Linked DNA regions of Homo sapiens. The protein of the gene in region 1 interacts with the protein of each later gene in a pairwise test. Each region holds a gene or a part of one and is shown on either strand. Other genes may lie near its edges.

Evidence for each region.
Region 2: the proteins of PACS2 (region 1) and NBPF15 interact in a two-hybrid assay, tested with the Homo sapiens proteins (one large-scale study listed by IntAct).

Annotation. Positions count from the first base shown.
Region 1 is NC_000014.9:105,380,629-105,384,439, reverse strand, and holds part of PACS2 (phosphofurin acidic cluster sorting protein 2), read right to left. Parts: intron 3,487-3,811; coding exon of another isoform or gene 3,484-3,486; coding exon 3,341-3,483; intron 2,527-3,340; coding exon 2,382-2,526; intron 1,964-2,381; coding exon 1,859-1,963; intron 1,634-1,858; coding exon 1,527-1,633; intron 1,082-1,526; coding exon 927-1,081; intron 88-926; coding exon 1-87. UniProt on the Homo sapiens protein: Multifunctional sorting protein that controls the endoplasmic reticulum (ER)-mitochondria communication, including the apposition of mitochondria with the ER and ER homeostasis.
Region 2 is NC_000001.11:144,451,604-144,455,414, reverse strand, and holds part of NBPF15 (NBPF family member NBPF15), read left to right. Parts: intron 1-3,265; exon of another isoform or gene 3,266-3,456; intron 3,457-3,811.

The DNA.
Region 1 (3,811 bases):
TGAACAGGTCTCTCCAGGCCAGGTCCTGGAAGAAGTTGTTGTAGCGGTAGTCCACGGAGCCTAGGTACCTGGCCACGGGGTGGGAGCCTGCATGCCAGGGGTGGGGCTGGTGTCACCACGGGGGACTCGGAGCTGCAAGGCTCCCACCGCGGCACAAAAGCTGGGCCACCCGACCCCAGGCCTGTGCTGCTGCCTTCCAGACAAGCCCACTTTCCTGCCACCGAAAGAGAAAGCCACCACTGCCCCTCCCTGGTGGATGCCTGTGGCCCCGCTGAAGGAGCTCCAGCCCTGAGCTGAGGTCCCAGAGCCCTGAGTGCCACTGAGGAAGGCCCAGCAGGGCACATGTGACCGTGCAGAGGCCTCGGCTGGCTCAGGGCTCTGACGTCGGCATCGTGAGGGCCACACGGGAGAGGTGTCGCCTCCAGGCCTTGCTGCTGGTCAACAGATTAAGGCTGGGTGGGTTTGTTTCGTGGTAAGACACATCGTATGGACCTAAAGAAGTAATGGAGTTCGACGACACAGGACCTGGACGATTTGAGAGGATTAATAACGAGCCCTGCTTTGCACTTCTGACTTTGGAAATCGAAACTGGCATAGAGTTATCACAGCGACTGATGGAGGAGACACCCAGCTCAGGCCCCTTCAGAGGGCGATGGCTTTATCTTGACCCAAATGGCTGTTTTAGGGCAATCAAGTTATCTTGCATATAATTAAAATTAACAAAGTGTTACTGTATCAAACAAACATTTAAAAACAACAAATGTGTAGCAAGCAGGGACACCACGCCATGCCACACCGCGCCACACCACGACACACCGCGCCACGCCACGCCACACAACACGCCACGCCACGCCACACCACTCCATGCCACGCCACACTGCCCGTGGCATCTGTGCCCAGGCCCAGGTGGACGGCGTGGTGCTCACCCAGTGGGATGACCAGGAAGCGCATGTAGCCGAGCCAGTCGGGTGTCTTGTGGGACAGCTGCTCCACAAAGAGCCGCAGGATGGCACTGAGGTAATGCTGCGCTCCCGCCACGGCGATCTTCACGGGGGTCGGGGGCTGGGAATTGCAGTTGCAGCTGCAATCCAGAGGCAGGTGGGACGGAGAGGGGACAGACGCCTCAGGGGAGCCGTCCTCCATCCAAGGATGCCAGTGTGAGCCCAGGGGGCTCCGTGCCTGTGGCCGCTCATGCCACAACTGCCCTGGAGCTGCCCAAGCCCAGGACCCCCACATGCCCAAACGTGCCCAGGCTGAGGGACCACACAGTCATGGCCTCAGCCCAGGCTTCCAAGGACAGGCCAGGAGGCCACCACTCCAGTGTGGCAGGACACCCACCAGGCTGCTGCTCCCGCCCACAACTGAGGGGAGGCCAGGCTGCGAAGAGCGCATGGGTCAGCCTCTGTGGACACCAGCCACAGCCCCAGGTCCAGGACGCACCTAGCCCCGGAGCAATGGGCAGAGGTGGGGGTGCAGGGACCCCGAGGGGTACTTGGGTGGTGAGTACAGGGTGGAGCCCAACTCACTATCTCTGTATCCGTGAGACGATGGTGCTGAAGGCCGCCTGGACGTCCGCAGGAGAGCACGTGCACACCACGGGGAGCGTGTGCCTCTGCAGGACGTCGGAGAGGAACTGGCAGAAGACAGGCAGACGCTGACTTCGGCACAGCCGCCCAGGCCACCCCCAGCACCTGACCCTCACCAAAGCTCTCAGGGGCTCCAGAGACCCCAGGCACGTCCAGGCAAACCACAGCCAGCAGCTCCAGCACCCAGGTGTGCCGGGTAGGGGGCAGCTTCAGGAACCCACTCTCCTCTGTCCTACACCCTGACCCTCCACTCCAAGAGACTGCCCCTCTACCTGCCCCTGCCAGTCCGAGGTGTTGACAAGGATGATGTTTTCGGGAAGCTGGTCATCGGAGATGAGGATGTGGTTGAGCTGGTCATACACAGTCTTCCTGGGGATCTGGAGGCACAGAGCCCTGTCCACACCCAGAAGAGAAGCACAGCGCCCATCCCCACCACGCCAGCCCTGGTGCCTGCAGTGCCCCTGCTCCCCCTGCAGCCACAGAGGCTCGGTGGCAGGAAGAGAGCTGGCCAGCTTGGAGAACTGCCCTGGGCTAAATCAGCCAAGCAATGAGGCTGCCCTGGACCAGGGAGGGCAGCAGAAGGACTAGAACTTGCCCTGGGGTCCACATGGTCTTCCTGACAAACCAACCCATGGCCCGCCCGCCCTGCTGTGTAGCAGGAGCCCTCCAAAGCCCAGGCATGCTCTGTGGCCCAGCACCCTTGGCCCCCTGTGCTTCTCTTTTTGCCCTGCTCTGGTTGGTGCCAGGGTGACCACGAGCCCTGCCTCCTGGGCGTGCCACGCCCTCCACCCCCACCTGCAGCTGCACCTGTAGCTGGCTCCGGGCGTCCGGGCAGCGCTCGTTGTCCAGGCTGTTGGCCCGCTCATTCTGGGGCCGTGCTGCCTGCCGCTCCTTCAAGGATGTGCTCCGGCCCCGTCGGCCAGCCTGCTTCCCCTCGGACCTATTGGGGACCAGGACAGGCTAAGTGGCTGTGGCAGCAGGAACAGGAACAGGGGCAGAGGCAGGGGCAGGCCTGCAGTGGCCTACACATTGTGGTGGGGACAGGGAAGGGTGAGCACAGGGCTGACTGATGGGCAGTGGGAACATGGGCTGCACAGAGAGGTCACCAGCCCTGGGAGGGCCACAGCAGCAGCTGAGTACAAGTGAGGCCGTGCCTCCGATGGGACCCCACACAGCTCTGCCTGTGAGACTTCGAGCCAGGCCAGGAGGCTTGGAGCCACCGTGAGGACTGAGCTCACCCTCCCTGCCCGGGCCAAGAGCTGGGCAGAGCCAGGTGCAGGCCAGTGCAGGGCACTGAGGCTGCCAGGGCGACCTGGCTCCAAAGCGCGGACACAGGCACCTGCGTGCCACCACAAGGTAAAAACCAGTGCCCAGACTCGCTGCTTTGGAAAAAGTCCCAAATATCACAGAAACATGAAATTGAAATCCTGGAAGAATCAAGCTGGTGTATGTGTGTCTTTTGGCTGAGGCAGGGGCTACTCAGGGGGATGTGGGGGCACCTGCTGGAGGGCAGACCCGCCTGACCCTGCCCTCAAACAGGTAGGGTGGAATCTGGGGCTGCAGGCTTGACACCCAATGCCGGGCCAGGGGGTTTGCTTCTCCTTTTTAAGAAGGACGAGGCCCTGAATCTGCTGTCTACACCCGAGGGAGCTCATCAGGATGGACTGACACGCACCCACCCCGACTGATGCCCGTGACGGCCCCTCCCCCGACAGGTGCATCACCGCCCCGCCCCGCCGTGCAGCCCCCATCACCTGGTGGAGGGGATGACAAGGGACTCTGTCTTGGTGATCCTCCCGCTGGGCGGCAGCCTCTCCGTGAACACATCCAGGGTGGAGGCCTCAGCCTCGGGGCTGTCCTCAGGCTGTCCAGGGTGCTCCCTCGGGCCTGGCACACCCTGCTGAGCAGAGACGGGCCTGGAGCCTCCCGTGGAAACCACACCCGTGCTGCGGCCTCTCCAGCCCTGTGGCCTCTGGCTCGGGTGAGGGTTTAGGCCTCTCTAGGCCGTGGCTCCTACATGTGGACCCGGCCATACGCTGACCAGGGAGCCTAGCTGAGCCAAATTCCAAGCACAGGGCTCCCATCCGGGCCATGCAGGGTGACCAGCCCCCAACCTCCCAGGACCTGACTTGCCCTGGGCCCAGGACCTCCTAACTGAGGAGACCCCATGCAACGCAGCAGGGGGGAACCAGGCGTTCCTGGGTGCCATCCACCTGAGGGTGGGG
Region 2 (3,811 bases), on another chromosome or scaffold:
CAGTAGTGCATCTGTCTCCAATAACTAGTTAGCGTGTTCCTGTTAATGGGAAATACTGGTGGTGTAAGTTCCCCTGGATGTTCTCATCTTCATGTAAATTTGTTCATTTCCTTCCTTCCTTCCTTCCTTCCCTACTTCTCTCCCTTCCCTACTTCTCTCCCACTCTTTTTCTCTCTCTCTTTATTCTTTCCCTCCCTCCTTCCCTTCTGCCTTCCCTCCCTTCCTTTCTTCCTCCCTTCCTCTCTCCCTCCCTGCCTTCCTCCCTCCCTCCTTTTCTTCCTCCCTCCCTTCCTCCCTCCCTTCCTTCCTTCCTTCCTTCCTTCCTCCTTCCTTCCCTCCCTCCATTCTTTCCTTTCTTCCTTTCTTCTTTTCTTTTTCTTTGTCTCTCATGCTCTCTCTTTTTCTTTCCTTTTTGTTCTACTTTTTAAAAAAGACCACACTGCACTGAAATCTACATTACTTACCAAAACCTCTGGAGCTGCTTCTGTCTTGTAGGCAGGGAGCTCGTCCTGTAGCCCTTAGGTCCTCCCAGCCTCCTCCTCCTCTGATTTGTGGGTGCCACTGGGGCAGCTGCTGAGTCTCAGTGGTTCCTAGTCATCACCAAGTTCTGCCCACCTAGATGGTTTGCACCTGTCCTTACCAGAACCCTGCACTGTCTAGATGACTGAGGCTGCTTCTGCCTAACTGATCTGCTAGCTGTGTTCCGGGGGCACCCCAGGGTTAGAGGTAAATGGCACAGGCATTGAAATCTCCAACTGCTCTGACTCCAGGTTGGTGCACTTCAATGCCAAGTACTAACCACACAATAACAGGATGCCACCAAAACCTTGGTATGGGGCTGCTGCATCCTAATTAAAAAAAAGTAATAGATGTTATTTTTTAGAACAGTTCTAGGTTTACAGAAAAATGGAGTGGATAGTACAGAGAGTTCTCCTAGGCTCCCCTGTCCTCCAGCACACAGTTTCCCCTATTAGTATGTTGTATTAGTGTGGTCCATTCGTTACAATTGATGAACCACTATTGATACATCATTATCAACTAAAGTCCATAGTTTACACTAGAGTTCATTCTTTGAGTTTCACAGATTATGGGTTTTGGCAATTATGTAATGTCCTAAATCCCCAATACAGCATCATGCAAAATAGTTTCACTGCTGAAAATTCCCTGTACTTCACCATTTCGTGCCTCCTCCTCTCCTCCACCCCTGACAACCACTCATCGTTTTACTACTTCTATCTTTTTGACTTTCCAAGAATGTCCTAGAGTTGGAATTACAGTATGTAGGTTTCCAGACTGGCTTCTTTCTAGCATTATGTACTTTAAGTTCCTCCACGTCTTTTCATGACTTGACAGCTTGTTTTGTAAAATCACTGAATCAGATTTCATTGTATGGCTACAACACAGTTTGTTTATTCATTCACTTGGTGAAAGACGTCTTGGGTACTTCCAAGTTTTGACAATTATGATAAAATTGCTGCAAGTACTTATGTGCAGGATTTTGAATGAACTTAAGTTGTCCAAAGTGACTGTACACTTTTGATTTCCACTAGCTATGGAGAGTTCTGGTTGTTCCTCATCTTTGACAGCATTTGGTGTGTTCACCGTTTTGTGTTTTAGCCATTCTGATAGGTTTACAGTGATATCTCGTTGTTTTAATGTGCAATTCCCTCACAACAAATGATTTTGAGCATCTTTCTCATATGCTTATTTGCCATCTGTATATCTTATTAATGAGGTGTTCAGATGTTTCACTTTTTTTTTTTTTTTTTTTTTTTTGCTTTGTGTTGTTTAGTTCTCAGAATTCTTCATATATTTTGGACAGCAGTTTTTCCATCAGATTATTTTGTAAATATTTTCTACCAGTCTGTGACTTGCTTTTTCCATTCTCTTAACAGTGTCTTTCACAGAACAGAAGTTTTTAATTTTAATGAGGCTCAACTTAATTTTTTTTTCATTAGTAGATTGTGCTTTTGGTTTTGTATCTAAGAAGCCATCATTGAACCCAGGATCCCTCAGATTTTCTCCTATGTTATCTCCTAGGATTCTTATGGTTTTGCACCTTACATTTACGTGTAAGATTTATTTTATAAAGGGTATAACATGCATACCTGGATTTATTTATTTTTTTGCATGTGGTTGTCCAGCTGTTCTAGCACCACTAGTTGGAAAGGCTATCTTTGCTGTTTTAAATTGTCTCTAAACCTCCATGGAAGATCAGTGGACTGTATGTAGGCCTGCTTCTGGGCTCCGTATTCTTTTCCATGCATCTATATGTGTGTGTTTTCTCTTTTCACCAACTTCACACTATTTGGGTTACTGTAGCTTAATGTAAGTCCTGAAGTTGGTAGTGCCAAACCTCAGGGAGTTTTTCTGAACTTCATCATGAGAACCTGGTTGAGATCATTGTAGTAACACTTGGAAATGTGTGAGATTCCCCCTTAGTCTGGTCTTCAAGGAGTTTTTAATGTTCTAGCCAGGCTACCCTCAGCTTCTAGTAATCTGTCAGTACCATTTAAGTGCTCCTCCCACTTGCTGTCCCCAGTAGCTTCTCTTCCCTGTGAGCTGTGACTCCTTGTGTGTTAGCCTGTGTTTCTCATTTTTAAGGTGGCAGTTTTCCCTGTGACCTCAATTCTCTGATCCACCCTAGAAGGGTTGACTTTCAGTTTGTTCAGCTTTTTTCTAGCTGTGAGGACAAGTGATGACTGCCTAGCTCTTTCCATGTTGAAATAGAAACCCAAAAGTTTGTTTAAAGAATTACTTGTTATAAAAGTCCCCCATTGTTAATGTACAACTCAATGATGTAAGTTGATTTATCGAATTGTGCAGCCATCAGCAGAGTTCTACTTCAGCATATTTTGTCACTTCCCAAATTCCCTTGAACCTGTTTGTAGTCATTTCCTAATCCCTGGTCCCCATGACTGGGTCTGAATAGAATAAATATTTGGAAAGCAGACTTCATTATATTTATATTTTCCTGTGTTTGGGACTTTATATAGTGGACTATTGTGTTCGTTTTGTGACAAGTAGAGAAGAGATTGCATTCTAGGGATGGTTTTTGGGGGAACATAATAGTAGTCCTGTTTATGGCTCTCCTTGAATTGGTTCATCTGTGCTGGTGACTGGTATTTTTTACCAAACCTTGTCTGGTGAGCACAAGAAAAAGAATTTTTAAAAATCTACTATTAAAATTGAGATGATACATTTTCACATAATAATATTTGAAGTAGTGAACCGTCTTTATTTTATTTTATCTTTTTTTTTGGAGATGGAGTTATTTCTCTTTTCCTTGGGCTCGAATGCAACGGCGCCATCTCAGCTCACTGCAACCTCCACCTCCTGAGTTCAAGTGATTCTCCTGCCTCAGCCTCCTGAATAGCTGGGATTACAGGCGCCTGCTACCACACCTGGCTAATGTTTGTATTTTTGGTAGAGACAGGGATTCTTCATGTTGGCCAGGTTGGTCTCTAACTCTTGACCTCAAGTGATCCACCTGCCTTGGCCTCTCAAAGTGCTAGGATTACAGACATGAGCCACGGCCTGACCTGAACTGTGGGGAAAAGAAAGAGATATCAGATTGTTACTGTGTCTGTGTAGGAAGAAGTAGACATAAGAGACTCCATTTTGTTCTGTACTAAGAAAAATTCTTTTGCCTTGAGACGCTGTTAATCTGTAACCCTACCCCCAACCCTGTGCTCCCTAAGACATGGGCTGTGTCAACTCAGGGTTAAATGGATTAAGGGCTGTTCAGGGTGTGCTTTGTTAAACAAATGCTTGAAGGCAGCATGCTTGTTAAGAGTCATCACCACTCCCT